Regions from separate parts of the Homo sapiens genome. Here region 1 is linked to region 2. The links come from fine-mapping of genetic effects on gene expression. A gene starts in region 2. The other region holds a variant in brackets. All regions are shown on one strand. Distances are from middle to middle. Region 1 overlaps SLC44A5 (solute carrier family 44 member 5). Region 2 holds the start of SLC44A5 (solute carrier family 44 member 5).

Evidence for each region.
Region 1: its variant is fine-mapped to the expression of SLC44A5 in T cells (GENCORD, PIP 0.95).

What each region holds. Positions count from the first base shown.
Region 1 is chr1:75,460,868-75,477,848 of GRCh38, forward strand. All of the region lies in intron 2 of SLC44A5 (solute carrier family 44 member 5), which reads right to left. Among named protein-coding and RNA genes, the nearest start is that of SLC44A5, 140 kb to the right of the region's middle. RefSeq lists an enhancer at 15,743-16,243. The variant A/AC (reference allele first, on the strand shown) is at 7,059.
Region 2 is chr1:75,603,895-75,620,875 of GRCh38, forward strand. SLC44A5 (solute carrier family 44 member 5) reads right to left here and starts at 7,220. Exons shown (of 24, transcript NM_001130058.2): 1 at 7,146-7,220. RefSeq lists a silencer at 12,049-12,268.

The DNA of each region.
Region 1 (16,981 bases), 140 kb before region 2:
TCTAGTTGGATAATTGTTCACTTTTAGTCAGGAATTTGAATGGTTTTCCATTCTTACATAATTCATCTCCATTAAAATCAGTCTGACATCCTTGCAAATTTATCCACAATATGGGGAGAGTTTTACAGATGTATATCACCATAATATTAATGATAGTGAAAAAAAAAATGGAAGCAACCCAATGTCCGAGAAAAAGAAAATGGTTAAATAAAGGCTGGTATATTGATTAAACAAAATGTCATGCACCATTTACAAGAATGTTTACAAAGATTATATAGCAACACAAAAAATGCTTTTGGCATACAAAGTCTTCACATAAACCAAAAGAGATCTCTTCTCTGATGATCAAATTAATTCCACAGATAATCGAGCACATTACTACTATACATCAGGTATGAAAATAGTTTTAAAATTGTTCCCTAACCATTTTCATCTCTGACAATTTTCACATGCACCTTTCTCCCTGTAAGATAATATTATTTAGGTCACAACCTTCACACACGTGTTATCTTAATTGAATCCTTATAAAATCCAAAGAGGTAAATAATATTATTAGTTCACTGGAGTAACTATTAATATTATTATGAGTGGTGTGTCTCAGGACATTAGATATATTTAATTGTGTTTTGAGGATCCCATTTGTCCAAGTCAACCAAGTCACCAAATTTTGCTAGCCACGGTGACTAAATAGCTCTTTCCTAGCAAAAGAAAACATAAAATTCTCATTATTGAGTTACTGTCTAGGCCAGCACTGTCCAATAAAAATACAAAGCAAACCCTTGGATAGCATTTCTGAAACTGCTCTCGGCCAGAGGAGTGCCTACTACCCTAAAGAGTGAGTCCAAGGCCAGGCAGCATTCACAATAAGCTGACTAAAAAGCCCTTGGGCCTTAGGGGGAACATTGGTAGTAATCTGCCAGTACTCCTCATGGCCTGGAGTGGTGGTGGGTATGGGATAAGACTCCTCTGCCTTTGGAAAGGGGAGGGAAAAATGGAAAGTACAATAGAACATCAGATGGCCTTTTAAGGTTTTTGACTCTAGTTCCTGGCTCCCAAACAACACCTATGGACCCTCCTGGGTCCTGGAGAAAATCACAATCCTGCAGGGAAGGACGCAGGCCTGGCTGACTTTGCCACCTGCTGACTGTAGAGCCCTATGGCACTGAGCAAACATAGGCCATAGCCAGGGAGTAGTTAAGCAGGCCTTGGGCAAGACCCAGTGCTGTGCTGGCTTCAGGTCTGACCCAGGACATTCCTAGCGGTAGTAGCCAAAGGGTGCTTATGTCACTCCACCCCCATCTCCAGTTGACTCAGAACAAAGATATAAACTCTGTTTGTTTGGGAGAAAGTAAGGGAAGAGAACAAGAGTCTGCCTGGTAATCCAAAGAATTCTCCCAGTGCTTGTCCAAGAACATCAAGGTGGCACCTCTACACGTCTGCAAGAACCACAGTGTTACTGGACTTTGGGTACCCCCTAAAACAAATACAGCTTAGATCACAACACTTACGTCTTTTAGAATACCTGGAAAGCCCTCCCAAGAAAGACTGGTACAAGAAAGCCCACACTGAGAAGACTAGAATAAATACTTAACTCTTCAATGCCCAGACACAGATGAACATCTGCAAGAATGAAGACAATCCATGAAAACACAACATCACCAAATGAACTAAATAACGCATCAGGGACCAGTCCTGGAGAAACAGATATGCGACCTTTCAGACAAAGAATTCAAAAGCTGTTTTGAGGAAATGCAATGAAATTCAAGATAACGCAGAGAAGGAATTCAAAATGCTATCAGAAAAAATTTAACAAAGAGATTGAAATAATTAAAAAGAATCAAGCAGAAATTCTGGAGCTGAAAAGTGCAATTGACATACTGAAGGATGCATCACAGTCTTTTAATAACAGAAATGATCAAGCAGAAGAATGAATTAGTGAGCTTGAAGACAGGCTATTTGAAAATACATAGAAGAGACAAAAGAAAACAGAATTTTTTTAAAAAAATGAAGCACACCTGCGATATCTAGAAAATAGCTTCAAGAGGGCAAATCTAATAGTTATTGGCTTTAAAGAGAAGGTAGAGAAAGGAATAGGAGTAGAAAGTTTATTCAAAGGGAAAATGACAGAGAACTTCCCAAACCTGGAGAAAGATATCAATATTCAAGGACAAGAAGGTTATAGAACATCAAGCAGATTTAACCCAAAGAAGTCTGTCTCAAGGCATTTAACAATCAAATTCCCAAAGATCAAGGATTAATAAAAAAAGATCCTGGCTGGGCACGGTGGCTCACGCCTGTAATCCCAGTACTTTGGAAGGCCGAGGCAGGCGGATCACAAGGTCAGGAGATCGAGACCATCTTGGCTAACACGGTGAAACCCCGTCTCTACTAAAAATACAAAAATTAGCTGGGCGCGGTGGCAGGCGCCTGTAGTCCCAGCTACTCGGGAGGCTGAGGCAGGAGAATGGCGTGAACCTGGGAGGCGGAGCTTGCAGTGAGCCGAGATTGTGCCACTGCACTCCAGCCTGGGCTAAAGAGCGGGACTCTGTCTCAAAAAAAAAAAAAAAAAAAAAAAGATCCTAAAAGCAACAACAGAAAAGAAACAAATAACGTACAATGGAGCTCCAATATGTCGGGCAGCAGATTTTTCAGTGGAAATCTTACAGGCCAGGAAAGAGTGCATGATATATTTAAAGCAATAAAGGAAAAAATTTTTACCCTAGAATAGTATATATCTGGTGAAAATATCCTTCAAACATAAAGGAGAAATAAAGACTTCCCCAGACAAACAAAAGCTGAGGGATTTCATCAATACTAGACTCATCCTGCAAGAAATGTTAAAGGGAGTACTTCACTTAGAAAGAAAGGAATGTTAATTAGTAATAAGAAATCATCTGAAGTTACAAAACTCACTGGTAATAGTAAGTACACAGAAAAACACAGAATATTACAACACTGTAACTGTGGTGTGTAAACTACTGTTATCCTAAGTAGAAAGCCTAAACAATGAACCAAACAAAAACAATAACAACTTTTTGAGACATAGCACAATAAGATATAAATAGAAACAAGAGGCCGGGCGCAGTGGCTCATGCCTGTAATCCCAGCACTTTGAGAGGCCAAGGCAGGAGGTTTATGAGGTCAGGAAATCAAGATCATCCTGGCTAACATGGTGAAATCCCATCTCTACTAAAAGCACAAAAAATTAGCTGGGCATGGTGGCATGCACCTGTAGTCCTAGCTACTCGGGAGGCTGAGGCAGGAGAATCACTTGAACCTGGAAGGTGGAGGTTGCAGTGAACCGAGATTGCACCACTGCACTCCAGCCTGGGCGACAGAGTGAGACTCTGTCTCAAAAAAAAAAAAAAAAAAAAAAGCAAGAAAGAAGAAAAAGGTAAAAAGCAGGAGGACAAAGCTAAGGCATAGAGTCTTTATTTGTTTTCTTTTTGCTTGTTTGTTTATGAAACAGTGTTGGTATCAGCTTAAAATATGAGTTATAAGATAGTATTTGCAAGCCTCATGGTAACCTCAAACCAGAAAACATACAATGGATACACAAAAAATAAGCAAGAAATTAAATCACATCACCAGAGAAAATCGCCTTCATTAAAAGGAAGGAAAGGGAAGAAAAGACCACAAAACAAGCAGAAAACATAGAACAAAATGACAGAAGTCCTTATTTATTAATAATAACGTTGAATGTAAATGGACTAAACTCTTCAGTCAAAATATACTGACTGAATGGATGGGAAAAAAAAGAAGTAATAACCTGTTGCCTACAAAAAATACACACATAAACTGAAAATAAAGGGATGGGAAAAGATATCCCATGCTATTGGAAACCAAAAGACAGCAGGAGTCACTATGCTTGTATCAGACAAAATAGATTTCAAGACAAAAACTATATGAAGAGACAAAGGTCTCTGTATAATGATAAAGGAGTCAATTCAGCTAGAGAATATAACAATTTTAAATATATATGCACCCAACACTGGAGCACCCAGATACATAAAGCAAATATTATTACAGCTAAAGAAAGAGAGAGGCCCCAGTACAATATACAATAATAGCTGGAAACTTTAACACCTCACTTTCAGCCTTGGACAGATATTCTAGACAGAAAATCAACAAAGAAACATCATACTTCATCTGCACTATAGACCAAATGGATCTAATAGATATTTACAGAACATTTTATCCAAGAGCTACAGAATACACATTTTTTGTTCATCAGCACATGGATCATTCTCAATGACAGACCTTATGTTAGGTCACAAAACTAGTCTTAAAATATTTTTAAATGAAATAATATCAGTCATCTTCTCTGTACACAATGGAATAAAACTAGAAATCAACAACAAGAAGAATCTTGGAAACTATACAAATGCATGGAAATTAAACAATATGCTCCTGGATATGGGTCAATGAAGACATTAAGAAGGAAATTGGGCCAATGAAGAAATTAAGAACACTGAAAATTTCTTGAAACGAATGATAATGGAAACAACATGCCAAAACCTATGGGATATAGCAAAAGCAGTACTCATACATACCTACCCAAAAAAAGAAGAAAAACTTCAAACAACCTAACAATGCATCTTAAAGAACTAGAAAGGCAAGAGCAAACCAAAACCAAAATTAGTAGACGAAAAGAAATAATAAAAATCAGAGCAGAAATAAAGGAAATTGAGATGAAGAAAACAATACAAAAGATCAATAAAACAAAAAGTTGGTTTTAAAAAACATAAACAAAATAGACAAACCTTTATCCAGACTAAGAAAAAAAGAGAGAAGACCCAAATAAATAAAATCAGAAATGAAAAAGGAGATATTACAACTGATACTGAAGAAATTCAAAAGATCCTTAGTGGCTACTATGAGCAACTATATGCCAATAAATTAAAAAATCTAGAAGAAATGGACAAACTCCTAGACACATGCAAACTACCAAGATTGAACCAGGAAAAAATCCAAAACCTGAATAGACCAATAACAAGTAACAAGATTGAAGCTGTTATAAAGTCTTCCAGTAAAGAAAAGACCAGCACCCAATGGCTTCACTGCTGAATTCTACAAACATTCAAAGAAAAGCTAATATCGATTTTCCTCAAACTATTCCAAAATTAGAGGATGAGAGCATACTTCCAAACTCATTCTACGAGGCCAGTATTACTCTTATATCCAAATCAGAAAAAGAGACATCAAAAAAAGGAAACTACATGCCAATATCTCTGATGAATATTGACACAAATATCTTCAACAAAATACTAGCAAACCAAATTCAACAATACATTTAAAAGGCCATTTGTCATGACCAAATGGGATTTATCCCTGAGATGCAAGGATGGTTCAACATACGTAAGCCAATCCATGTGATATATCATATTAACAGAATGAAGGACAAAACCCATATGATCATTTCAATTGATGCTGAAAAAGCATTTGATAAATTTCAACATCCTTCATGATAAAAATCCTCAAACAACTAGAAATAGAAAGAACACACTGGCCGGGTGTGGTGGCTCATGCCTGTAATCCCAGCACTTTGGCAGGCCGAGGTGGGCGGATCACGAGGTCAGGAGTTTGAGACCAGCCTGGCCAACATAGTGAAACCCTGTCTCTACTAAAAATACAAAAAGTTAGCTGGGCGTGGTGGCAGGTGCCTGTAATCCCAGCTACTTGGGGGGCCAAAGCAGGAGAATTGCTTGAACCTGGAAGGTGGAGGTGGCAGTGAGCCGAGATTGTGCCACTGCACTCCAGCCTGGGTGACAGTTCAAGATGCCATCTTAAAAAAAAAAAAAAAAAAAAAAAGAAGGAACATACCTCAATAGAATAAAAGCCATATATAACAGATTCATAGCTATTATCATACTGAATGGGGAAAAACTGAAAGCCTTTCCTCTAAGATCTGGAACATGCCAAGGATACCCACTTTCACCACTGTTATTCAACATAGTACTGAAATTCCTAGTTAGAGCAATGAGACAAAGAAATAAAGAGCATCCAAATTGGAAAGGAAGAAGTCAAATTGTCCTATTTGCAGATGATATGATTTTGTATTTGGAAAAACCTACACTGCACAAAAAACTATTAGAATTGATCAACAAATTCAGTAAAGTTGCAAGATACAAAATCAACGTACGAAAATCGGTAACATTTCTATATGCCAATAATAAACAATCTGAAAAAAGAAATTTAAAAAGTAATCCCATGTACAATAGCCACAAATTAAACTAAATACCTAGGAATGAACTAAAGAACTGAAAGACCTCTATAATGAAAACTATGAAACACTGATGAAAGAAATTTAAGAGGACACCAAGAAATAGATAAATATTCCAGGTTCATATACTGAAAGAATCAATGTTGTTAAAATGTCCATACTACCCAAAGCAAGCTACAGATTCAATTCAATCACTATCAAAATACCAATGATATTCTCCACAGAAATAGAAAAAACAATCCTAAAATTTATATGGAACCACAGAGGACCCAGAATAACCAAAGCTATCCCAAGCAAAAAGAACAAAATTGAAGAAATCAAATTACCTAATTGCAAATTATACTATGGAGCTATAGAAACCAAAAACAGCTTGATAGTGACATAGAAACAGACACATAGACCAATGGAACAGAATAGAGAACACAGAAATAAATCTACACACCTACAGTGAACTCATTTTCAATAAAGGTGCCAAGAACATACACTGAGGAAAAGACAGTCTCTTCGATAAATGATGCTGGGAAAACAGGTTATCTATATGCAGAAGAACGAAAGTAGATGCCTATCTCTCGCCATATACAAAAACTAAATCAAAATGGATTGAAGGTGTAAATCTAAGACTTCAATCTATGAAATTACTAAAAGAAAACTTCAGGGAAACTCTCCAGGACATTGTTCTGGGCAAGAATTTCTTGAGTAATACCCCACAAGTGCAGGCAATCAAAGCAAAAATGGACAAATGAGATAACATTAAGTTAAAAAGTTCTGCACAACAAAGAAACAATCAACAAAGTGAAGAGACAACTCACAAAATGGGAGAAAATATTTGCAAACA[A/AC]CCATACGACAAGAGATTCATAACCAGAATACATAAGGAACTCAACTCTATAGGAAAAAAATCTAATAATCCAATCAAAAGATGAACAAAAGATTTGAATAGACATTTCTCAAAAAAAAGGCATACAAAAGGCATATAACAAGGTTTTCAACACCATTGATTATCAGAGGAATGCAAGTCAAACTACAATAAGATATCATCTCATCCCGGTTAAAATGGCTTATGTCCAAAAGACAGGCAAAAACAAATGCTGGAAAGGAGAGGAGAAAAGGGAACTTTCATACACTGTTGGTGGGAATGTAAATCAGTGCAACTACTATGGAGAACAGTTTTGAGATTCCTCAAAAAATTAAAACTAGAGATACTATATGATCCAGGAATCCTACTGCTGGGTATACACCCAAAAGAAAAAAGATCAGTGTATCAAAGAGATATCTGCATTCCCATGTTTGTTGTAGCGCTCTTCACGATAGCCAAAATTTGGAAGCAACCTAAGTGTTCATCAACAAATGAGTAAATAAAGAAAACATCATATTATACACCATGTAGTACTATTCAGCCATAGAAAAGAACTAGAGCCTGTCATATGCAACAACATGGATGAAATTGGAGGTCATTATGCTAAGTGAAATAAGCCAGGCACAGAAAGACAAACATTCCATGTTCTCACTTATTTGTGGAAACTAAAAATCAAAATAATTGAACTCATGTTGATAGAGAGGAGAAGGATGGTTACCACAGGCTGGGAAAGGCAGCAATGGGGTTTGGGGGATGTGGGGATGGTTAATGGGTACAAAAAAAATAGAAAGAATGAATTAGACTTAGTATTTGACAGCACAACAGGGTGACTATAGTCAATGATAATTTAATTGTACATGTAAAAATAACAAGAAGAGCATAATTTGATTATTAGTGACCCAAGAGATAAATGTTTGAGGGGATGGATACACCCATTTTACATGATGTGATTATTATACATTGCATACCTGCATCAAAATATCTCATGTACCTCATAAATATATACACCTGCTATGTACCCACAAAAATTAAAATGAAAAATTAAAAATGTATATATATTGCATGCCAGGTATGCAAGTTTTAATTTTTTAGTAGCTGCATTAAAAAGGTAAAAAGAAACAGATGAAATTAATTTTAATAATGCCTTTTACTCAACCCAATATATTCAGATTATCATTTCAACATGTAATCAATATAAATTCATTTATTTGAGATAAAAATGAGATATTTTGAATCCTTTTTGTTTTAACCAAGTCTTTGAAGGCTGGTCTGTATTTTACATTTACAGCTCATCTCAATTCAGACTAGCCACATTTCAGGTGCTCAATAGCTTCATGTGAAAAGAGGCTACCATCTTGGACAGCACAGTTGAAGACTAACTGATTGATAAAAGAATGTTGAAAATACTTATGAAAGGTAAATGATGACATAATAAGCGTGAGCTGTAACACCATGTGCCACTTAAGAAGACAATAATACCATTTATATAATTTAGATGCAGATTTTACTAGCATTCCCAGAAAAAAAAAAGTGTAGTGAATTTCTTCTTCTTTCCTTTTGGCAATATCATTCTGAAACCAGTGTGTGTAGAACTTAGGGGAAAAAATCACTAAAATGGTACGGCGTATAATGGAATAAAAATATTATGCCATTGGGATAAGGTGTCCTGGCTTTGAGACAAAAAGTAGAGTCAGACTGAGCACAGTGGCTTATGCCTGTAATTCCAGCCTTCTGGGAGGTGAGGCAGAAGGATTGCTTGAGACCAACGGGAGACATAGCAAGACGCTGTCTGAACGATAAGTAAATATTATCTGGGCATGGTGGTGTATGCCTGTAGTCCTAGCTACTCAGGAAGCTGAGGTGGGAGGATCATTTAAGCCCAGGAATTCGAGGTTACAGTGAGCTATAATCACACCACTGCACTCCAGCCTGGGCGACAGAGAGAGACCTTGTGAAGAAAAAAAAAAAAAAAAAAAAAAAAGTAGAGTCAACGTATCCTGACTCCCATAATAAAAAATTGCAGTTCAAAGGGAGGAGGGCTTCACGGATGACTTGCATATTTCCTAAGCTCCTAAAACATTCTTTAGAGGCAAGTATTTATCACCAACCTTTCTATTTGACAGCATATTAAAGATATTCCTACAGTTTTGGTGTTTCTGTAAGAGCAACTAAGGAATAACCCTGGAAAGATAAGAGCTTTTCATAACAACCAAGCTTTCAAACCAATCAATCCTCAAGACAATACTTTTTAAAAAAATTGAATGAAGTCTACACGTGAAGCTAAAAGCTTTGGTTTTCAAGAACCCTAGGGCTATACTTTAAAACAGCAGTAAAAAACATACTCAAAGATGGAAGAGAATGAGCACTCAAGAGAAACCAAGTGAATGTACAGTTGTGCCCTACCTTATAAATGTTCCTCACGTACTGCCACAGCTAAAATTAGGTCCCCACGTTTGAAATAATCCTTCCACAAAAGGTAGTTTATGTTGTATGAGCTCTTCTGTAACATAACGGTAGAATTTATAGTCTAGTGAGGACTACTACAGCCAAGTAAATAGGCATCTAAATTATTATATAGTGTGAAGACTACCAAGATAGGGAAGGTATAATGGAAGCACGCAGGAGGGGCCATAACCCAGACGTGAGGGGGAGGGAATGTTACTGGCGTCAGCTTCCTGAAGAAAGTGAAGTCTAAGCTAAACCTACACCATGAGTAGGTGTTAGCCTAGTGAAAGGAATTTGAAGCAGAGGAAATGGAATGTCCAAGGCCAGAGAGAAGCGTGACCTGGCATGGCATGTCGAAAAACTGAGATAAGTATGGTGGGAGGGTTGGGAGGGGCTGTCCAGGTGGAGAGATGTGGGTAAGGAGTTAAATAAGAGTGCCATCCTGCCATCCCTTTTAAGCTACGAGTATGGACTTGTTCTCTAGAACAATGGATAGCTACCAGAGGCATCTGAGTAACTGTTTCTGCTTTGACTCCCTACCTTTGGTGGGTTTCTAACTCCTCAATTACATGAAAATTCTAAAACTAAAGCATTTTGCAAGTATTTTGGGGGTAAATGAAAAAGCTAACAAAACACAACTATCTTCAAATATAATGCAGAGAGGGAAAAATAGAGGGCTCAGACAAATTTATTCCCTGGACTTGGAAAGTTAGTATTTTCTCAGTGATTCGTTGAAGATCTATTTTTTAACCTTTTTTTTACGGCCTGGCTGTGTTTCTTTGGAGTTTCATAAAATTAATGGCTTGTAACATCTCATTACTGGGCAAGTCTAAGGGCACCTTTCTCATCATTGCTTGAATTTCTGCCTTGAAGGGAATCCCCAGGATGGGAATTTTCCTGCGAGATGGATTGCTGTTTCATTTGAAGCCTTCCTTTCAACAAGGAAAAATTTCAAATCCCTCTCCATCTAATACATAAGCTTGTGTGCATGAAAACACACACACACACACACACACACACGTACACACACACACACCCATGAATTAAATCAGAACCAGGACAAAAGAAAAGGAGGGAGGAATGACATAAGCAGCTTCCAAAGCACTGCCTCTACCTGATCATAGCCTTTTATCTCAATCATGGCAGGGGGAAAGCCCATGCCCTCAATCAAGCAAAAGATCTCAAGAGAATGCGGGCAGAGCTCATGTCTCTTCTCCAAATATGATTTTTTTTCTATTTTTCCTTTGCTAATGTGTTCAAAGTATTTCCTCTCTCTGGCATTCCACTGCCCTCTATTTCTTAATTTTCTTCTACTGACTCCAGACTGGCAGCTTTTTCTTAGCTCAGTCTCTAAACCCTTTGTGTAGTTTCTTATGGGCATTTACTCTTATTCTACCTATGCCTAGAGAAGATCAAATAAGCTAGTTTGTATCCTCTGTCCAAAACTTCTGCACATTCCTAAGGACCATGAACAAGGAACCACTAAGGCTTTTTTTTCTCTGATCTATATTTATAATGCCACTTCCTGGTTATTTTTATTTTCCAGACCCATAATCTGTTTTGTGGCAAGCCATGGAAGGAACTCTCAGGTTTCTCATGTCTCTCTAAGCAGGATTTGGCAATACTAGATATTGTATTTTAGTAGGATTTTGGCTAGTGTTCAGGACAATAGGCAGAGCATATCCCCCTGGGTTTAAAAAAAAAAAAAAAACTACTGGGGCCTGGGTGTTTATTCTTCTTCTCTCAAGCCACTGGGAATAGAGCTTTCAAACAAGACCAAAGAAAAATATGAGAATAAAAAGGCTTCATGGAAAAAATAAGGTATCTTTAGGGTGAGTCATGCAGGGGAAAGTGTGCCGAGCACCTGTCAGTAGTACCTTTCTGATTCAGTCATGAGTATCAACTTAATTCTTTCTTTTGAGAAGAAAGCCAAGGTATTTTGAAATGCATAGCTGTTTAGATGTGGTACCCATTCTGCAAAGTTAATAACATCTTTGAGGGTTCATTAATCTCAACAAGCCTGAAAAAAAATAAATTTTCATGTTCTTGCTCTCCTACTATCATTCTTACAGTTCTTTTACATAAATAATTGGTTATGGTTCAAATTAAAATAACTTTGACAATTATTAAGCAAGCTAGGAGTGTTTTGAGCTTGCGCTGTGAAGTGAGATATCAGCGCCCCAGGGTGCCTCAAGACCATGTGTTATCTTATGATAACATTCAACTCACTTTTTTCTAGGCTTATAAAATACAAGTTTTTCATTTAGCAGCTGAAATGACTGTGCTCTCTTTAGATAATATTCCCTCACTGAAAGGTTAGTCTCAATAGAATTTTTATGATTAAAGCACAAATGTGGTATTTATGAGGACTAGGATTTGTGTTTCTGGCAACCCGAGTGTCCTCAAAAGCATTGCAGCCCTGTCCTCATTTCACAAGTCCTATAATGTTTTGCAGACCACCGTGTCCTCTATACTTAAATCCTTCTCATAGACTAACAAGTGGCAAGCCTTCACTCTTACACATATTATAATCTTTGTGGGATGCACTAAAGACTTCTGTGTGATGAATTGTCATCTCCCTCAACCTCAAAGGTAACTGGCTATAAAACTGTTTTATGTTGCTAGTATTCCTAGTCCTCGTGTAAAAATACTAGCTGTAATTCAGTGTTGGCAATGTGGTATTATTCATAAAGCATTCAGACTGTACAGTTTTAGAATGTCATCGGAACTTCCTGATTGAATTACAATCTAGCATTCAGCTAAGTGTCCTTTTTTATGCATGAAAATTACTCACAAGCATTTCCCAACATCTCCAGGGCCTACATGGGAGTTCCAGAGGGAGCAACACTTTGCATAATCCTTCAAAAATATCTTCAGGGACATTCAAGAACCAAGAATTGGATAAAGCTTTTAAAATCAATGCTGGTTATAAAAGAAAAAAAACATAGCTTACAAGATGAAAATGTGTTGATGATTTTCCAAAGAGGAAGAGGAAGCCTCTGAAAATATGACTCAACTTCACTTGCTGGTTTCCAAAGCAAATTCTAAGTTGATGACATGGATTTAGCCCAACTGTGTCAGACAATTTTTGGTGAGGTAGGCGATGGGGTTTTGTTTGTTTCTTGCAGAATTTGGGGGTACTTGATTTGCGCTGTTCTTTGCTAAAAACACTTATCTGCCCCACTCAAAATCCATTCACACATAGATGTTTTCTTATTCACATTTCTATGTTTAATTTCAAGAGATAATACTTTTACAGATGACTTTCCCTATTGTATCAGCTTCTCTAATTCTAGCACTATAATCAGCATCTTATTTTACAAGTGCTTTTTCTTGACTCTAGCCTTATTTTTTATGTTCTTTCCATAATTTTATAAATTCCCTTTCTTTATAAATAAGAAAATAATTTTTTCCTCTGTTGTGGCCTTTTCCAACTTTGTCCAATAGCAAATTTGTCCAGCCTAGCTGGTGGCAGTATATTTAGTACTAAGTAATATAATGAATCTTCTAAATATGAGCTCTGTGGCTCTGTAGTGTGGTGGTGTCATAGAATATCAGAGATATTTTAGTCCTGATTCAATACCTGCACATACATGACATATAGACATAACATTGTTTTATGCCTGTAGACTTGCTTTGTTTCTTCAAAAATATATGTTAATAAAAATGTGAGCAGATTTGCTGCTTCATTGAATATTTAACACTGCTTCATTAAATTAGTTCACTGTCAATAACAGATTTCATTCTAAGATTCAAGGCAGGAGATGGGGAATGGCAACAATCTGAAAAATAAAAAAAGAAGGAACTTCTAAGAATATTTAGATTTCTTTGTCATACAGTCTGCACCTTCTGTCAATTCCTAGGCACTTACTGTCGATAGTAAATTTGTCCAGTCTAAACTTACTAGATTCATTCTGTTTTATTATTAAATAAAGTCATTTAACACTGCATACTAAAGCTAAATTAAACATGTTCCCAGGATAATTATCTCTATATATACTTACATTCATTCACGAGAACACTACTTTCAATCTTATAATACTAATGCTTTCAAATTCACACCTCAATGCCAATATTCTCCTCTGACTTTAACATTTTCTGGATTGATAATCAATATAGTGGAGTTATTGTCATTCATAAAATTAAGATATAGGTCATTAGCTAATCTTGATAGTAAGACATTTACGTGTAATGTTACACAAGGATGTTTTGTTTTGTTATTGCCAATTAGTAGTCCAAGTTAATTGGAAGTTTTCTTTGTGGGGCATAGAATTATGTGGCTCAAACACATTTTCAAAATGACAATACAAGACAGAGTCATAATTAGTAAAATTTTATACCCCAAATTTCTCTTATTTCAATACATATTTAATTATGATGTGAGTGGGCTTCCTTTAAAAACAATCCAGAAAATTCTACTTAGGCTAACTTTATAATAAACAATATAACTGCTCTTTTCATATAATTTGTTTCAAAAAGCATATGTTAGTAACTGGAATTTTCAAGTAATTCTGAATTCTTCCAAAGCACAGGTCTACTAAAATGGCCCTACTAAGACCTCTGGTAAGAGAGCAGCAACAATTCAACTGCCTGAATGAAATGCCAAATGGCATAAAGTAAAATCGTTGTGTGTCGCCCCTGAGTTATTCACACATCAGCAGGAAGTGAAATGAGGAGCCTGAATTCCATGTCCTTTACCACTTGCCCTCTGTGGCATTTATGAAAGAACCCCTCATAAGGAAAAATAACATCAATAATGATGATCTTACGCCTCATCTCTTAAATATTCACAGCTCAGCAAAAGCCTAATAAGAAGAGTGGCCTTTATGTCCTCTTTCTAGATGTCCTTCCAATATCATTTGAGGAAACCTTGTAAAAGACAAATAACAATCATGATAGAAAATTTATTTCGAAAGAAGGAAAGGAATGATGAGGAAGGTATTTGATAGAAATTTCAGTAGATGAGCTTTGATATTACCTCTTGTTTTGCTACTCCTCTTGGGAAGAACCAACCCTCAATTAGCGATTGAGTTTAAACTCCTCTGAACAAGTATTATTTCTCTGATTACTCAGAAAGATCTATTTTCTTCCGATATTTTATTATTACTTGTCCAGCCAGAATTCCAAACCAACATTCCTTCTAAAATATCTCCTTGCTCCTCTTTTCATTCTGCCAGTTTCACCAGCTTACTTTCATTCCCATTTCCCACTATTTTAACTGCCACTCTAATATATATGTCTCACTTATAACCCTCAGCCATCTCCAAACCTTTCAGAGAATACCCATAATGGAAACATTACAGGATTAGGAATTAGGGCTCAGAATATCTCAGCTCTAATCAGAGAAGCAATATAGTATATGTGTTTAAGAGTGAGGGCTAAAGAGATTAAATAAATAGATCCTACTCCCAGCTTTACCACTTACTAATTATGTGATGGTGGTGAACTTATTTAACCTCCCTGGGCCAATTTCTTCATCTGTAAAATGGAGATAAAAACAACATATATCTCAGTGGCTGGGTGTGGTGGTTCATGCCTGTAATCCCAGCACTTCGGGAAGCCGAGGTGGGCGGATCATGAGGTCAGGAGTTAAAGACCAGCCTGACCAATATGGTGAAGCTCTGTCTCTACTAAAAATACAAAAATTAGCTGGGAATGGTGGTGCGCACCTGTAATCCCAACTACTCAGGAGGCTGAGGCATGAGAATCGCTTGAACCCGGGAGGCAGAGGTTGCAGTGAGCTGAGATCAGGCCACTGCACTCCAGCCTGGGAGACAGAAAGAGATTCTGTATCAAAAAAAAAAGTATATATATATATATAGAAAGTTATCAAGATTAACAAGGTAGAGCATTTAGAATTCTACCTACTAACTGGGGAGCAGCCAAGATGGTAGCATAGGAACAGCTCTGGTCTACAGCTCCCAGCGTGAGTGACGCAGAAGATGGGTGATTTCTGCATTTCTATCTGAGGTACCGGGTTCATCTCACTAGGGAGTGCCAGACAGTGGGCGCAGGACAGTGGGTGCAGCGCACCGTGCACGAGCCGAAGCAGGGCGAGGCATTGCCTCACTCGGGAAGTGCAAGGGGTCAGGGAGTTCTCTTTCCTAGTCAAAGAAAGGGGTGACAGACGGCACCTGGAAAATCAGGTCACTCCCACCTGAATACTGCGCTTTTCCGACAGGCTTAAAAAACAGTGCACCAGGAGATTATATCCCACACCTGGCTCGGAGGGTCCTACGCCCACGGAGTCTCGCTGATTGCTAGCACAGCAGTCTGAGATCAAACTGCAAGGCGGCAGCAAGGCTGCGGGAGGGGCGCCCGCCATTACCCAGGCTTGCTTAGGTAGACAAAGCAGCAGGGAAGCTCGAACTGGGTGGAGCCCACCACAGCTCAAGGAGGCCTGCCTGCCTCTGTAGGCTCCACCTCTGGGGGCAGGGCACAGACAAACAAAAAGACAGCAGTAACCTCTGCAGACTTAAATGTTCCTGTCTGACAGCTTTGAAGAGAGCAGTGCTTCTCCCAGCACACAGCTGGAGATCTGAGAATGGGCAGACTGTCTCCTCAAGTGGGTCCCTGACCCCTGACCCCTGAGCAGCCTAACTGGGAGGCACCCCCCAGCAGGGGCAGACTGACACCTCACAGGACCCGGTACTCCTCTGAGACAAAACTTCCAGAGAAACGATCAGACAGCAGCGTTCGCGGTTCATGAAAATCTGCTGTTCTGCAGCCACCGCTGCTGGTACCCAGGCAAACAGGGTCTGGAGTGGACCCCTAGCAAACTCCAACAGGCCTGCAGCTGAGGGTCCTGTCTGTTAGAAGGAAAACTAACAAACAGAAAGGACATCCACGCCAAAAACCCATCTGTACATTACCATCATCAAAGACTAAAAGTAGATAAAACCACAAAGACGGGGGAAAAAACAGAGCAGAAAAACTGGAAACTCTAAGAAGCAGAGCGCCTCTCCTCCTCCAAAGGAACGCAGTTCCTCACCAGCAACGGAACAAAGCTGTACGGAGAATGACTTTGACGAGTTGAGAGAAGGCTTCAGATGATCAAACTACTCCGAGTTACAGGAGTAAATTCAAACCAAAGGCAAAGAAGTTAAAACCTTTGAAAAAAATTTAGATGAATGCATAACTAGAATAACCAATACAGAGAAGTGCTTAAAGGAGCTGATGGAGCTGAAAACCAAGGCTCGAGAACTACGTGAAGAATGCAGAAGCCTCAGGAGCCGATGTGATCAACTGGAAGAAAGGGTATCAGTGATGGAAGATGAAAAGAATGAAATGAAACGAGAAGGGAAGTTTAGAGAAAAGAGAATAAAAAGAAACGAACAAAGCCTCCAAGAAATATGGGACTATGTGAAAAGACCAAATCTACGTCTGACTGGTGTACCTGAAAGTGACGGGGAGAATGGAACCAAGTTGGAAAACACTCTGCAGGATATTATCCAGGAGAA
Region 2 (16,981 bases):
TTATAGATTCTAGATATTAGACCTCTGTCAGATGCACAGTTTGTGAATATTTTCTCCCACTCTGTAGGTTGTCTGTTTACTCTGTTGATAGTTTCTTTTGTTGTGCAAAAGCTACTCAGTTTAATTAGGTCTCACTTGCAATTTTTGCTTTTGTTGTCATTGCTTTTGAGGACTTAGTCATAAATTTTTCCCAAAGTCAATGTCCAGAATGGTGTTTCCTATGTTTTCTTCTAAGATTCTTATAGTTTGAAGTCTTACATTTAATTCTCTGATCCATCTTGAGTTAATTTTTCCATATCAAACAAGGTAGGGGTCCAGTTTCATTCTTCTGCATATGGATAGCCAGTTATCCCAGCACCATTTATTGAGTAGAGAGTCCTTTCCCCATTGCTGATTTTGGTTTACTTTGTTGAAGGTCAGCTGGCTATAGGAATGCAGCTTTATTTCTGGGTTCTTTCTTCTGTTCCATTGGTCTATGTGTCTGTTTTTGTACCAGTACCATGCTGTTTTGCTTACTGTAGCCTTACAATATAGTTTGAAGCCAGGTAATGTGATGCTTCTGGCTTTGTTCTTTTTTCTTGGGATTACTTTGCCTATTTGGGCTCTTTATTACTTTATTACTTCCATATGAATTTTAGAATAGTTTTTTCTGATTCTGTGAAAAATGCCATTGGTAGCTTCATAGAAATAGCATTGAATCTGTAGATTGCTTTGGGGAGTTTGACCATTTTATTATTCTTCCAATCCATGATCATGGAATGTTTTTCCATTTGTTTCTGTCATCTATGATTTATTTCAGCAGCGTTTTGTAGTTTTCTTTGTAGAGACCTTTTACTTCCTTGGTTAGAGGTGAAACCAAGGGGTGTGTGTGTATGTGTGTGTGTACTGTAAATTAGGCTATGTTCTTCATTTGGCTCTCAGCTTGAACATTATTGGTGTAAAGATATGGTACTGATTTTTGTACATTGATTTTGTATCCTGACACTTTACTGAAGTCATTTTTCAGTTCCAAAAGTCTTTGGCAGTCTTTAGGGATTCCTAGGAGAGATAGTTTGACTTCTTCTTTTCCTATTTGGATGCCTTTTCTTTCTTTCTCTTGCCTGATTGCTCTGGCTTGCACTTCCGGTACTGTGTTCAACAGGAGTGGGAAGAGTGGGCATCCTTGTCTTGTTCCAGTTCTCAAGGGGGATGCTTCCTAAAATGTCAATTTGAAAGCCTGATTTTTGTCTTTGACTTTGAACACTGAAAGACAATCCAGAGAACTAGCAAATTTACATTTAAAAACCTGCCTTTTAAGTTTTTAAAAACTATGAATTTAAAATTGCTTCTTTTAAAATTGGGTTTTAAATTTTTGATTCTACAAGAAAATTTTCATTCAACAAGCACTTAGGACCTGTTCTGAGTTTCTTCAGAGCCTTTCTTAAAAGATAAGGCACATATTGAAGGTAGAGTTATTAAGAATGAGAAGGTGGAGAAAAAATAAAAATAAATAAATAAACAATGCAGCTCTCATCCAAAATCCTAATGGCCCAAAAAAGCTACAAAAAAAGATGCCTGAGAGGCCACCCCTCCTTTCATATTAAAAAGCTATAGTGATTTGTAGAGTCAGAGCTTAACAAATCACCCTATTCTTCATCCTTTCCTTCACTAAGTTGTCAGACAGATGCAGAATAGAAATCAGCAATGTGAAATTGTGGTTTCTCAACTGAATGAGGAATTTTTCACCATGACTTTAATGTTCCTCTGTCATGGGCCCTAATGGGAAACTACCAAAAGTTATAAAATTCGATTATACTATGGGAATCCACAGAAGGGGGTAAAGAGAAAGCAAAGGCAAAAAAGAAATGTCTTTATTTTGAACCCTAATCATTTATTTAAAAGCTGTGTCTCATCTAAACACAGAACAATGGGATAGGGAAAGCTCCTGCTTCCGGATCCCTTTTTCAGAAGCAGCTTCCTAGCTTCTCTCTGGAAGAAAGGAAAGATGATAGGGCTAGCCCATAGCTTCTCAGCCTTGGCAACATTGACAATTTGCACTAGGTAATCTTTTGTTGTGAGGAGGTACATTATAGAATGTTAGTAGCATCCCTGGTCTCTACCCACTGGATGCCACCAGCGCCACTCCAGTCATGACAATCAAAATATCTCCAGACACTGTAAAATTGCCCCTGGTTGAGAAGCATTAGGCTAGTTCCCGCACAATTTTTTTTTTTAATTTTTCTTTAGTTCTTTAAGATCCTTTCAAGTGAGGGAATGGACTGCCACAGTCAGCAACAAGATGACTGGCAAACTCTTGTCTTCTGGAAACTTTTTCCTACTATGGCATATTTTATTATTTTGTCAGAAAATCCATTTCTATACCTCTCTTAATACTCCATTTAATATTTCTTAAAGATAATACATTTAAAGACGTAAAAGAAGATAAAAGAGAAACATCCTTAGAACTAGGCAACATAAGACCATTCTACATTAATTCATCTTACCTCCATAGGAAACTGTCATAAAAAGCACCCAAAATTTAAAATAGTAAAAGAGAGGTTAAAACCCACCTCAATACACAGATAGTAACAAACAACAAGGAATAAAACCCACTATTATTCTTCCATCTTAAAAAAGCAAATCTTTTTTCAACTCCACAACTCCCATCCCCAGCCATATCATTTCTTTGCTCCCTTTAAAGCAAAACCCTTCAAAACAGTTAACTGTGCTGTCTTTAATTTTCCTCCTCTTCATTCTCTCTTAACCCACTTCACTCAAAGCATCATTGCCACCACTTCACCTGGGCTGTCTTTGACTTTCATATTAATTAATTAAGGTCTTCAATGACTTTCATATTAATAAATACAATGGCCATTTCTCAACCCTGATCTTACCTGACCTATGGGCAGCGTTTGACACTGTTGATTATCATTTTCCTCCTTGATACACTTTCTTCCTTGGTTCCAAGACCCCACACCCACTTCTTAGTCACCAGTTGCTCTTTCTCAATCTCCTTTACTGACTCCTCCCCTTCTCACTTATCTCTTAATAATGGAGCAGCCCTGGGCTCAGATCATTTCTCTCAATCTATACTCAATTCCCAGTGAGTCTTCCAGTCTGTGATCTTAAATACCACCAATGTTCTGATGAATTCCAAATTCATATGATCAGCCCAAGCCTCTCTCCAAGACTCCAGACTTACATATCCAGCTTCCTACTTGTCATCTTCACTTGTATATCAAATAAATATTTCAAACCCAAATGTGTCCAAAACTAAACTTCTGATCCTTCCCCATAAACTTGCCCCTTCTACAATCTTCAAATAGTAGTTGATGCCAAGTCCACCTTCTCTTAGTTGTTTAGGTCAAAAACTGTGCATTAATCCATCACTCCTTTCTTTCTCTCACATGAAACATCCTGTTAGTTTTTAAAATTATATAAGTTCTACCTTAAAAATATATTCAGTATCCTTCCATTTCTCATGTTCACCACTGCTTCTACCCTGATAGATGCCACTATCATCTCTCAACTGAATTATTTTTTATAAGCAACTTTTTATTTTAAAATATTAATTGACAAATAAAGACTGTATGTATTCAAAGTGTACAACATGATGATTTGGTATATGTACACGTTGTATAATAAATAATTATTACAACCAAATTTAATAACACATCTGACATAGTTTGGGCTGTGTCCCCACCCAAATCTCATCTTGAATTGTAACTCCCATAATTCCCACATGTCATGGGAGGGACCCAGTGGGAGGTAATTGAATCATGGGGGTGGGTCTTTGCCATGCTGTTTTCATGATAGTAAGTCTCATGAGATCTGATGGTTTTATAAAGGGGAGTTCCCCTGTACATGCTATCTTGCATGCTGCCATGTAAGATGTGACTTTGTTCCTCATTCACCTTCTGCCATGATGGTGAGGCCTCACCAGCCATGTGGAACTGTGAGTCAATTAAACCTCTTTCCTTTATAAGTTACCCAATCTTGGGTATGTCTTCATTAGCAGCATGAAAACAAACTAATACAATATCCATCACTATCTATGCTGTATATTATGTCCCCAGAACTTGTCTTATAACTGTAAGTTTGTACTGTTTGACTAGTATCTCCTCACTTCTCCCACTCCCCCAGCCTTTGGCAACCACCATTCTACTCACTGCTTCTATGAGTTCAATAATTTTGGATTCCACATATAAGTGAGATCATACAGTATTTTTCTTTTTGTGCCTGGTTGATTTCACTTAGTATAAAGTCCTCCAGGTTTATCCATGTTGTTGTAAGTCAATAGCAAAAACAAAACAAAACAAAACAAAAAACAAAAAAAAACAAATAACCCAACTTAAAAATAGGCAAAGGAACTGAAAATATATTTTTCCAGAGAAAAAGATATGGAATCAACCTACGTGTCTATCCACAGATGAATGGATAAACAAAATGTGAGGGGTATGTGTGTGTGTGTGTGTGTGTTGTGTGTGTACACAATGGAGTATTATTCAGCCACCAGAAGAAGAAAATTTTTAAAGAGTTATTGCAAAAGATTCCTTACTAGTCTTCTAGTTTCTCATTACCCCTACATATTGGCTCGATATTCTCAACACAGTCGCCGTAGCAATTATTTTAAAATGTAAGTCAGATCATATTTTTCCTCTGTTCAAAATCTGAACTGGTGCCACATTTCCCCAGAGTAAAAACCAAAGTCTTAAAACTTTCTAAAAAGTTTAATATAATTTAGTCTTCCCTCATCTTTCTGACTTCATTTTCTATTTCTATCCCCCTTACTAATTCCACTTGGTCTTCTTTCTGTTAGTCAAACATACCAGGTATATTTTCACTGTAGGGTCTTTGCTCTGGCTTTTCCTTCCTTCTGGAAGTCTCCTCCCCTTCCACTGCTTCATGTCCTTCAATATTACCTCGTCAATTGGTCCTACCCTAACCACCCTATTAATACTTGCAGCTGGCCCACCATCATCCCATGATTAGCAATCCAAATCCCCCTTACTATGCTCATTTTTTTTTCTTTCTGTCATGGCACTTTTCAATTTTTAATATCAACAATGTATTCATGCTTATTATTCATTGTTTGTCTTCCCTATGTATAGTGTAAACCTCATGAAGAATTCATTTTGTTCCCTGATTTATCCCAAGCATGCTTAGAATAGTGCCCAGTACATAGTAAGCGATTGATTAACACTTATTGAATGAATAGAGAACTACATGAACGAATAAAATAGATTAATATCCTACTCTCAAGTAGAAGAGACGGCAACCTTCCTTTCTTAAATCCTCTTTCTCAGTCTCCTATTTATACCTCAAAGGACTAACTGGGCTGGGAGGAGGAAGGGATTCTTTGGTAAGGAGGAATAGATAAATACAGCTGGAAAGGTTTTTATTTGAATATTTTAGGGTTTCATTTCTTTGGGTTTTTTCTTTTTTAATTGGCAAGTAAAAATTTATATATTTATGGTGTGAAACCTGATGTTTTGATATATATACACATTGTGGAATGGCTAAATCAAGCTATTTAACATATTCATTACCTTACATTCTTATTTTTGATGGTGAGAATAAAAGATTGTAGATTTTAAGAAACTTTCTATCTTCTTAGTTTGGAGGACTGTGAAATCTTGTGCTGTTGGGAGATTTTAGGGCTTTTGTATTCTCTTTATCACTCTGATTTTTGGTTCGGTAGTGCTTCAATTTGGAAAGTATCTTCTAAACTAAATGAACTAGAGGAGCCAGGAATCAGTACTCAAAAAAGCAGAGGAGAAAGCAAGCTGCTACAAGAAACTCAAGGGAAACAAGAAAAGAGAACTTCAGGGTTTCAGCCCAATTCACTAAATAGGAAAGAGGGCTAAGATTCAAGATCAGTGTTGGAACTAGTAACAAATATTACATTTCATGATAGAGGTGCAAAAATAATGAACCACAGGTATATTCATGATCTAATGTTATGTAACCTATTACCCCCAAATTTTAGTGGTTTAAGACAAGAGTAAGCATTTATTATATCTTATGGTTTCTGTGATTCAGGAATCCAGAAGCAGCTTGATTGGATAGCTCTGGGTCGGGGCTATCATGAAATTCAGTCAGATGTTGGCTGAAGCTACAGTCATCTGAAGGCTTGACTTGGTTGCAGGGTCTGTTCCCAAGATAGATCACTCACATAACTAGCAAGTTGTTGCTATTAGCAGGAGGCCTCAGTTCTTCCCACACAGAGCTAAGATTCAAGACTTCTATGCAAGTCAAGAAATACACACACACACACACACACACACACACACACACACACATAGTGAAGTCTGAATATAAATTAGGAACTGAGCTCTTCTTCTCTCTCCATAGGTATATACATATACATACATATACCTATATACACATAGATATCCTGGAGAATTATTTAGAGAGAGCAATATTTCTACATCAGCTCCCTAGGCCAAGTAAGGTGACCCAATGGACTTCACTTTTCTAAAAAGTGCAGTTATACTTATGTATCTTCTCTTACTATTCATCAAAATACCGACAATATTTTGGGCTGAAATGTTAATAATATCTGTATGAACCTCTGCTTCAAAAAATAATCCAAGGGATCCTTGAGTATTTTTAAAACATGGCATCTGGTTTCCCCAAAATGAGCAACATAAGAAAGCAAAGAATACAAAAGAACAAGGCAGAAGCCATAGTGTATGTCTTTATGATGTAGTTTTCTGCTGTACAGTACTGATCACATGGTCAGCTGTGATTCATTTTGGAAGGGGAGTATGAACAGGTGTGAATACCAGTAGGTAAGGATTCCTAGAGATGTTATCAACATCTCAGCCCGAAATATTGTCGATATTTTGGTGAATATTAAGAGAAGATACATAAGTGTAACTGGACTTTTTAGAAAAGTGAAGTCCATTGGGTCACCTTACTTGGCCTAGGGAGCTGATGTAAAAATACTACTCTCTTTAAATAATCCCCCAGGATATCTATATATATACACACACACACACGGAGAGGAAGTGCTCAGTTCCTAATTTATATTCAGACTTCACTATATATATGTGTGTGTGTGTGTGTATTTCTTGAGTTGTATAGAATACGTACTTATGAATAACAAACTTGACCAATTTTCCTACAGACATAGACTTCTTGCATTTAGCAGTATCACTCACCTCTTACTCCATCATTTCTTCAATAACTCCATCAACACTGAACCTTCTAACTCTAACATGCTACGATTCACTACTGTGAAAAAAAAGCTGATGTCATAAACACATTGTGTTCCAGTATCACTAAGGGCCATACCCCATTCTTAGGTAATCCCTGAGGTCCTACTAGCCTTGCTAGCCTCAAAGGAGTCACTTGGAGTATAAAGAGGGGGAGGAGACTGAACAAAGTCCTGGAGCTATAGTATATTTTTTCATTGTTAATCCTTGGCAAAGAAGTAGGTAGTTTGGAGGTGGAAGTAGGCCATGATTACCTTTAAAATAATCTACTATTATTTGTGTCTTTCCTGAATATCATAGCACCTTCTTGTCACAAATGCTTAGGGGAAAGAAAATCATCCAATATACCCCATATCCCACTTACCAACATCTCTACAGTAAAATGAGACCCAAGAGCATGATTTCCTTAACTAGCTATCAAGCAACTACCTCCAACAAACAGCAGTTATCATTAATATGTTCATGCTATTTTCATTTGTGAGGTCTGTAATCCATCAGAACAACCTGACAGTGATTAAGTAAAATCAAAGAGACTTTGTAAACATCTGTGTGCTTTTATTGTTACAAATGCTTCATTATAAAAAGATCAGTCAAAAGCATAAAAGTACCCTGGTTTAAACTTTTTCTGTGTTTGAATGAGAATGTTTCTCTTGGAACATGCTCATATCAGGCTTCCACTTGGCAAAATCACGAATTGGCTGATGTTGTTTTAGAGGCTTTCTCATGTCCCCTTCCAAACATCACTCTTCTCCTTCTGTGGACCCCTTTCTGTTATCTAGGAGCCCCTCATGCTGCCTTCCACATTCTGCCTACTGCACAGTCATGTTCTGGACCCCTCAGAATCCCCCTCTACCATTACAATATGTTTTTCCTAAGACTTACTTGCATTGAAAGGCTTGCCAGGGAAGTGACTAATCTTATCATCTTGTACTAAATGTTAAATTAATCCTCATTCTCTCTAGAATTGTTTTCTAAGCAGGGATTCCTAGAGATGCTATCAATATCTCAGCCTGAAATTGCATAGGTATTCTGGTGAATAGCAAGAGAAAATAACGTGAGTATAACTGGACCTTTTAGAAAAGTGAAGTCTATTAGGTCACCTTAGTTGGCCTAGGGAGTTGATGTAGGAATGCTCCTCTCCCTGAAATAATCTTCCAGGAGAGGAATGTATCCCCAAATAGCAAGTGAATATCCAATGGCTTCTCATTGCACTTAAACTCTATATTCCTTTTTATGACCAAAAAGGCCTGGCTTCTCCCTAACTGTCTCTTCCTTACACATTACACCTCTTCCTTTTGTATGTGAATGTGCCAAGCTACCACCTCATTTCTACCTTAAGGCCTGAAGTGTTATGTTCCAGTTCTTGGCATGCAAATTACTCTTCATCACTTGTTTCCCGACACAAATGCCACCTTTCCAGACAATCTAAAGTAACCTCAAAATCATTTGCTCGCACATCACTTTGTTTTATTTCTCCTGGTATTAATCACTATGTGAAATTTTCTGGTTCATATTATTTGTCACCTGCTTCTTCCAGGCCTCCTCTTACTTCATTGTCTATCATGTTCATTACCGTATCCCTAGTGTTTTGCACAGAATCTGGTACATATTCAGTGCTCAATAAATATGTGCTAAATGAATAAATGAATAAATTAACCTAAACATAAGTTTTACACTTAAGTAATTGAGCAAGAAGTCTTTGTTGTACTAATATTGGAAAAGGCAGGGGTGGGGGTGGTGACGTGATTATAACCAATGTAACCAGCTTGCATTTATAAGACTTGTATTGATTATGAACTATAGCATTTTTTCGTTAAAAACATTATCAATATTGGATTGTAAAAGATTCCATTGGCCTTTCTGAAAGACTGTCCTTTTGATGAGATGTCACAAATGAATGCTAATGTCCCTTGAGAAATCCTGCCAACAGATCTTATTCTTCTATCAATGTTAAGAAACTGCATTTCTCTTTGGCCAATTTCTAGGCTTATGGATAGTCTCTCTTGCTAGGACTTCAGAAGCCAATGAGCAACTTGCCTGTCACAAGATCCGACGAATGATCTCTCCCTGCATGCGGTGTAGCTAAGCAGAGAAGCAGCTCTTGTAAGAGAATAACCAACACAGCATGGAATATTGCTAAATCTACAGTGTTTTATCCAGCAAAGTTCACCCCAGTAGCCTGCCCCTGCCAATAAAGCCTAGAAATTTTTCCTACCAGGCAGTCCCAGTTTAGTTGGTTGTAGCTTAGAAGCAGACATCTGAGAGCAGTTCAGCAAGCCTGCAGTCAGATGCTTTTGTAGAGCTCTCCTCTTAAAAGGCAAAATTGAGGCAAGTCAATAGATTACAACTTTCTGGGTTTGCTTCTGTCATCTATCAAATATCACAATTCATCCTGCTTCGCTAAAGTGAAACTCCAAGGATTTGTTTTTAAAGGTGTCCTTCTTTCTGTGAAATACTAAATGAACTTGTTTTAAAAAACAAGAACAACTCAACACAAGTTGATAGGAGCTAAGTAACATAACTTTTCCTTTAAGAAAAACATGTAGCATGAGAAAACCTTATTTTTAAAGTACTACATAAAATTTATTGAGACCACATGTCGTAAGAAAGCTTGATTATTAATCCTTCCAGAGAAACTGTTAACACTTAACTGCTATTCTTCAATTATTTCACTATCAAATTAAACTTATTCAAGAAAATACAAATGATTCCATACTGACCTACAAAACAAAAACTTTTTGGTGTTTTGAGGGGACGGAAGAATAAAGGGGAGGTGTCTTTTTCATCAAATCTCTTATATGAGCTCATTTCATCAATCTAATTGTATCTTTTTGTGCTTCTGCCAAGATTATTAATTTCAAGGGTAAGATTTTCTCTGGCTACCATGTACTGTAAAACTGTAAAATTTTTTCCACTCTTCATGGACCATTTACAATCTGCAAGGTTTGGGGTGGGAATGAAATGTATTTCTGCCAATGGATAGCCACATCAGCAGTGCTGAAAACCAATCCTTCTGTTTCACTCATCGTGCCATATGGCTCCATAAAAAAGGAGCGAACCAAAAGTGTAGCTCATACGCCTTGTCAATCTGGGCTTAGACTAATTATTTGATATTATGATAAAGAGAGGAATCTGTTTGTAGGTGAATATATTCTCTCTTCTTTCTTTACTCGTGTATCTCTATACCCATGCGCTAATTTATGGAGGGGGGGAATCAGAGGTTTAAAGCCCCTCTAATTTTACAGGAGCTATAATATTTTAAGAAAAGGCATTGCAATAAAATTGTCATACATAGGTTATAATTTTTAACAACAAAAAGTCCCAGGTGTTTTCATAGTAATGTCTTCTTAAGAATTAAGGATCATGATTTTAAACGCTTTCCAGTAAGTGCTTTGAGTACTCCGGAGCAATTAAAAAGCAAGCTGACGCGCCAAGATAAAGTTGTGTCCCCCTAGTGACCTCTAGAGCGGAGCTAAGCTCCCACAAGCCAGACTTGGGAGGAAAAGCAAAAAGCACGCCAAAGCCTGAGCGCTGCTGTAGTCCAAGCCAATGTATTCAGTAATACCCTTCACCCCTCAGTTCTCATCTGAGTTCCTGTCCTTTTTTATATAACCCCAAAGGCTCAGTAAGTCGCTGCCTCCCAGGTCATTGGGCCCATTGTGTTGAAATCCAACTTCGAACGACGCCCCTTCCTTGCCACCATCCTCAGGTCCAGTTCCCCCGCGCACAGCCTTCCTCACCGCGCATGGTGTCGAGCCCACTTCCACCTCTCTGCAGTGCTGCAGACAACCTCTAGGGCTCTGCGAGTCCCCCAGCGAGAGCTAGGGAGCCGACAAGCTGCGACCTCTGCGAGTCCGCGCTGCGGGAGCGGGTGGCTTGCACCTGCTCCCCGCGCGCCGGCTCTGCGACCCCTAGGCAAGACGCAGCCCAGGAGGCTCCCTCCCGAGTCGCGCCCCGGACCACGCCGCAATGCCTCGTCACCCCAGCAACAAGCTCTTCCTTGTCCTCCCCGCCATCGCTTCTCTCCGCGAACTTTCCAACTTTGGAAGCCCGGGTTCCAAAGGAGCAACAGGGAGACTGCTTAGCCGGAGCCACTGCCCGTCTCGACAGGTTGGGGAGCAGGAAGTAGCCTGCAGGGACTCGGCCGGTAGCAAGTCCCCTTGACCGCAGGGAAAAGGAGAGGCAGCCAGCTCCAATCTCCTCCTGAGGATGGAGGTTGGGGAAATGGATGCAGAACTTGTCACCCTAGGGACGAAGGGGCGGAGGGAGGGGGGATTGGAAGAAAAGAATAGAAGAGACCATGAAAAACTCTCTCTCTCTCTTACACACACACACACATACATACACACACACACACACACACACACACACACACACACACACACGAGAGGGAGAGAGAGAGAGATTCCGGAAAAGACAAGATGCTAGGAGCCCAGTCGCTTCTCTCCCCACTGCCCAGAGGCTAGGAGGTGCAACAGATAGATACCCAAGCTCGCCGAGTAGCAAAGGGGTGGGGTGAGAGAGGAGTCTCCAGGTTTCCCCAGGTTGCAAAAGGGGCACAAACTCCTGTCAGTGTCCCCGGAGGCCAGGGGAGGTGCAGCGGCGCCGCGGTTTCCCCCACCCCCTCCCCGGACACGGCAAACTCTTCCCCGGCAGGAGCCTTCCACTTGGCCGCGCCTGGATGTAAACAGGCCGGCCCGAGGGGCAGAGGGCGGGTGAGAGAGGGGAGGCGGCGAGGGGAGGAGGGAGCGGGACTCACCCTTGATGCTGGGGGGCTTTCTCTTCTTGGCCATCTTCTGTCCCCTTCCCTCCCCCGGACCCCCCACGCGCTTCCTCCGGCTGCCGCGCAGCTCCCAGGCGAGCCCTCGCCGCGGCTCTCAGCTCAGCGAGCTCTTTGTTGCTGTGATGGCATCTGCGAGCAGCAGCGGCGGCCGGGCTGCGCGCTCAGCTCGGCTCGGCTCGGCTGGGGCGGGCGCCGCCGCCCCTCTGCTCTCGGCCGCGCCGCTGGCCCCCCTCTTGCGCTGCTGTGGACGCGGTGGCTGCTGCGGCGGCGGCGGCTGCTGTGCTGCTCCTGCTGCTGGAGGGGGCAGCGCTGGGTCCCCTGAGCGCCCGCCCAGCGCTGACCTCCCCCTTCTCCACACCCTCCCTCCCCCACGCCCCCACCCCCGGTGTCCCGTCTGAGCCGCCAGCCCCCATCCAACCGGCTACCGCGCCGTCATCCAGCAGCCTCTACTGGAAAGACAACGGTGGCGGCGGCGGGGAGCTGCTGGGGGGCGCGGAGAGACCGCGGCCATCTGGGGCCGGGAAGGAGAAAGCCAGGCAGAGTCTGATGGAGTCTGCCTCCGGCCTGCCTTCCTCTGGGCCTTCGAAGCCCCCTCTCAAAAGGCCAGGACGCGCTGGGCCCAAGAAAGACACCCGTCTTCACAGGCCAACCAGAACTCTGGCCACCTGCGGGAGGACGGCACTGTCCCTTGCGACCCGGCCCAGGAGCCGTCCTCCTCCACAGCCTCCTCGAGGATAGCGAGCCCGAATTCCACGCGGGCGATGAGCCCCGAAGCGCGCGGTTGCCTCTGCCCCTCCCGAACCGAGAAGGAAAGAGGGGAGAGGGAAACAGGAGTCTGATGGAGGGGAGAGAAATGGAATTCCAGAGGCAGCCCACGGGCAGACACCTGCAAGAATGGCTGTGTTCTGGCCCTGAAGTTCTTAATAGTGAGGGCCCAGGATAGTTCCCTTGGGGCTGTGGGAAAAGAGGGAAGTTCACGCTCTCAGATGTTGGAGGAATTGGAAGCCGGAGGTGTGATTTCTTGGCCTCCAGCAGAAACTTGGTTACAGTGGCCACGTTCTTTCTCTCTCTGATTGGGGGTTTGCTTTGGAAAGTTCTCATGTTCCTGGAGGAGCTGTCCTCCCCTCGCGTGCTGATAAGGGATGAAAAGAAGTTCTGCTGGCGTCCCAGAACTGCAAGGGCAGGCGAAAGTTTAAGAATATAAAGGAGTATCGGACCTTAAAAAGAAACGCTTAAAGGGTAGGGTAGGGAGAGGTTACCAGGGTGTGCCACTGTGGGAAGAGGCTACAATATCGAATTTTTTTTATATGCTGCAGCTGAGATTGCCGCCGAAACGCACTTCCTAATTCGCAGTGACCTTCTTAACACTTCTCCTTTCCTCCTCCTAGGTTAGTACAGTTCCCAGCCCAATCTGATTGTCTAAACATTCAGTGAGTTAATTCAATATCTCCACCCAGAAGTTGCCCCAGTACTAGTGTGGTGCGGCAAAAAGAACAGTGAAGTCAAAAACCCCAATTGTGAATTCTGGCCCTGTAACTTCGTAGCTCTGAGAATTTGGACAAGTCACTCAATCTCTCTGCTCTTCTGTTTTCTGATATGTGCGATATCATCTCAAAAATTTCTTCCAGCTCCTGAGATATTAGTGACAAAATCATCACAAGTTATTTTTTCAGCCCTTCTAAATATAGCTTCATATAATGTAATATATTGAAGTAAATAATCTAGAAACATGTGAAATGACCAATTCCTCTCACAATGAAGATGTGCATCAGAAATAAAAAACAAAGAACATGTTTCTTTTAATAAGCAAAATAGACCCATTCTCAGACTTATGATCAGAAATAAGACTGACTCAAAGTTTTCCTCTTCCAAACAGCTGCCTCTTATTTAATTAAAAACTACTCTTCTAGGTCTTCAAATGTTTACTGTGTATAATATTAGACTTTGTAAATATTTCAGTCCATTTTATGTGCTCATATTTTATCACCAACTACTAATTATTGCCTATATTAGAATAATGTTTTTCTGTTTATTCATTACTTTCACATACTTTATTTCATTTAATCATGACCACACCCATGAGTTGAAAAGCAGGTCCTGTCTTCTAGGTTTTACAGACGGTGAAATGGGATTCGTGGAGGTATGATAACTTGCCCACAGCTTCGGTGTAACTCTTTTAACTCAATACCCAGCTCTCTCCACAACACTAGCTGCCTATGTGAAATAGAATATTTCTGCTTCAGACCAGGAATGGTTTCCTTTTTCTAATTTATTCCTTCCACAATGTCAGTACTATTCTCAACAGAGGAGACTCAAATTTAGTTGACTAGTTAGGACTATTTTTGGTACATGGATGTGATTAATATGCTTTTACACTGTTAGCACTTCAAAGTGTCCTTACATGCATTATCTCAATTAAGGTCATGACAATCACATAAGATCATCAAAAGAGGTTTATTCAGCCCTGCTGAACAGATGAGGAAACTGAGACCAAAAGACATTAAGGCCACAACTACCCAGGCCCTGGATTTCCAGGCCAAGTGTTTCCCCTATAGCCCACACTGTGTGTTTTTGTTCAAGGGTTGCAATTAGAATGACTGCAGGGAACAGTAAGACAGAATACATGACACCATCAGTATAAATATACAGTCATGCATTGCTTAACAACAGAAATACATTCTGAGAAATGTGTCTTTAGGTGATTTCATCCTTGTGCAAACACCATAAAGTATACTTAAACAAACATACATGGTATAGCCTACTATACACTTAGGCTATGTGGTATAATCCATTGCTCCTCAGCTACAAACCTGTGTAAGATGTTACTATACTGAATATTATAGGCAATTGTAAAACAATGCTAAGTATTTGTGTATCCAAACATATCCAAACATAGAAAAGGTGCCATAAAAGGCTGGGCATGGTGGCTCAGCCTGTAATCCTAGCACTTTGGGAGGCTGAGATGGGTGGACCACCTGTGGTCAGGAGTTCACGACCAGCCTGGCCAACATGGTGAAACCCCATCTCCACAAAAAATACAAAAATTAGCTGGGTGTGGTGGCAGGTACCTGTAATCCCAGTTACTTGGGAGGCTGAGACAGGAGAATCGCTTGAACCTGGGATGTGGAGGTTGCAGTGAGCCGAGACTGCACCATTGCACTCCAGTCTGGGCAACAAGAGCGAAACTCTGTCTCAAAAAAAAAGGGGGGGGGGAAGGAAAGAAGGAAGGAAGGAAGAAGGGGAGGGAGGAAGGGAGAGCGGGAAGGAGGCAGGGAGTGAGACAGGGAGTGAGACAGGGAGGATGGAAGGAAGGAAGGAAGGGAGAAGGAAGGAAGAAAGGGACGGAGAGCAGGAGGGAGGGAGGGAGGAAGGGAGGAAGGAACAAAGGAAGGAAGAAAGAAAAGGTGCTGTAAAAATGCAGTATTATGAATTTATGGGACCACTGTCATATATTCAGTCCATCATTGACTGAAATATCATTATGCAGTGCGTTGCTGTATAGATGTACTTGACCAAGGGAAGGGGACTGTAGAGAACTGAGAGGGTGTGTACCACTAGTCAGCTGCAGGATGCCTTGTGGGAATGAAAACGTCGGGGCTGTAAGAATTCTGATTTTTCAGGAGTCAGAAATCCAAATTTTCTGGTGAAATATTCTTTTTGATGTTGATTAATACATTAAAAAAACAAAAACACAAACACAAAAAAGGGTAGGCCTAACAGAACACATCTGCCAATAATATGTAGACTATGAGCTATGTGTCCATGTGTCTGTTTTTAAATTTCATCAATTGCTTTTAACCTCCAAACAGCAAGGGCTGAACCAAATCCTTGAGTATGGTTCTAATTCTGATGGCATCTAATGTCCCTAGAATTAGAGATTACCAAGGCCTTGGGTGCAATTAATTATGATTTATAAAAATGATTTGTGTGATAGGTGTTTCTAAATTTCTGGCTATTCTTTTTATTATTATTATACTTTAAGTTCTGGGATACATGTGCAGAATGTGCAGGTTTGTTACATAGGTATTCACGTGCCATGGTGGTTTGCTGCATCCATCAACCCATCATCTACATTAGGTATTTATCGTAATCCTATCCCTCCCCTAGTCCCCCACTCACTGACAGACCCCAGTGTGTGATGTTCCTCTCCCCGTGTCCGTGTGTTCTTATTGTTCAACTCCCACTTATGATTGACAACATGTGGTGTTTGGTTTTCTGCTCCTGTGTTAGTTTGCTGAGAATGATGGTTTCCAGCTTCATCCATGTCCCTCCAAAGGATATGAACTCACCCTTTTTTATGGCTGCACAGTATTCCATGGTGTATATGTGCCACATTTTCTTTATCCAGTCTATCACTGTTGGGCCTTTGGGTTGGTTCCAAGTCTTTGCTATCGTGAACAGTGCTGCAATAAACATACATGTGCATGTGTCTTTATAGTAGAATGATTTGTAATCCTTTGGGTATATACCCAGTAATAGGATTGCTGGGTCAAATTGGTATTTCTGATTCTAGATCCTTGAGGAATCACCACACTGTCTTCCACAATGGTTGAACTAATTTACACTCCCACCAACAGTGTAAAAGTGTTCCTATTTCTCCGCATCCTCTCCAGCATCTGTTATTTCCTTTTTAATGATCACCATTCTAACTGGCGTGAGCTGGTATCTCGTTGTGGTTTTGATTTGCATTTGTCTAATAACCAGTGATGATGAGCATTTTTTCATATGTTTCCTGGCCACACAAATGTCTTCTTTCAAGAAGTGCCTGTTCATATCCTTTGCCCACTTTTTGATAGGGTTGTTTGTTTTTTTCTTGTAGATTTATTTAAATTCTTTGTAGATTCTGGATATTAGCCCTTTGTCAGATGGATAGATAGCAAAAATTTTCTCCCATTCTGCAGGTTGCCTTTGCACTCTGATGATAGTTTCTTTTGCTGTGCAGAAGCCCTTTAGTTTACTTAGATCCCATTTGTCAATTTTGGCTTTTGTTGCCACCATT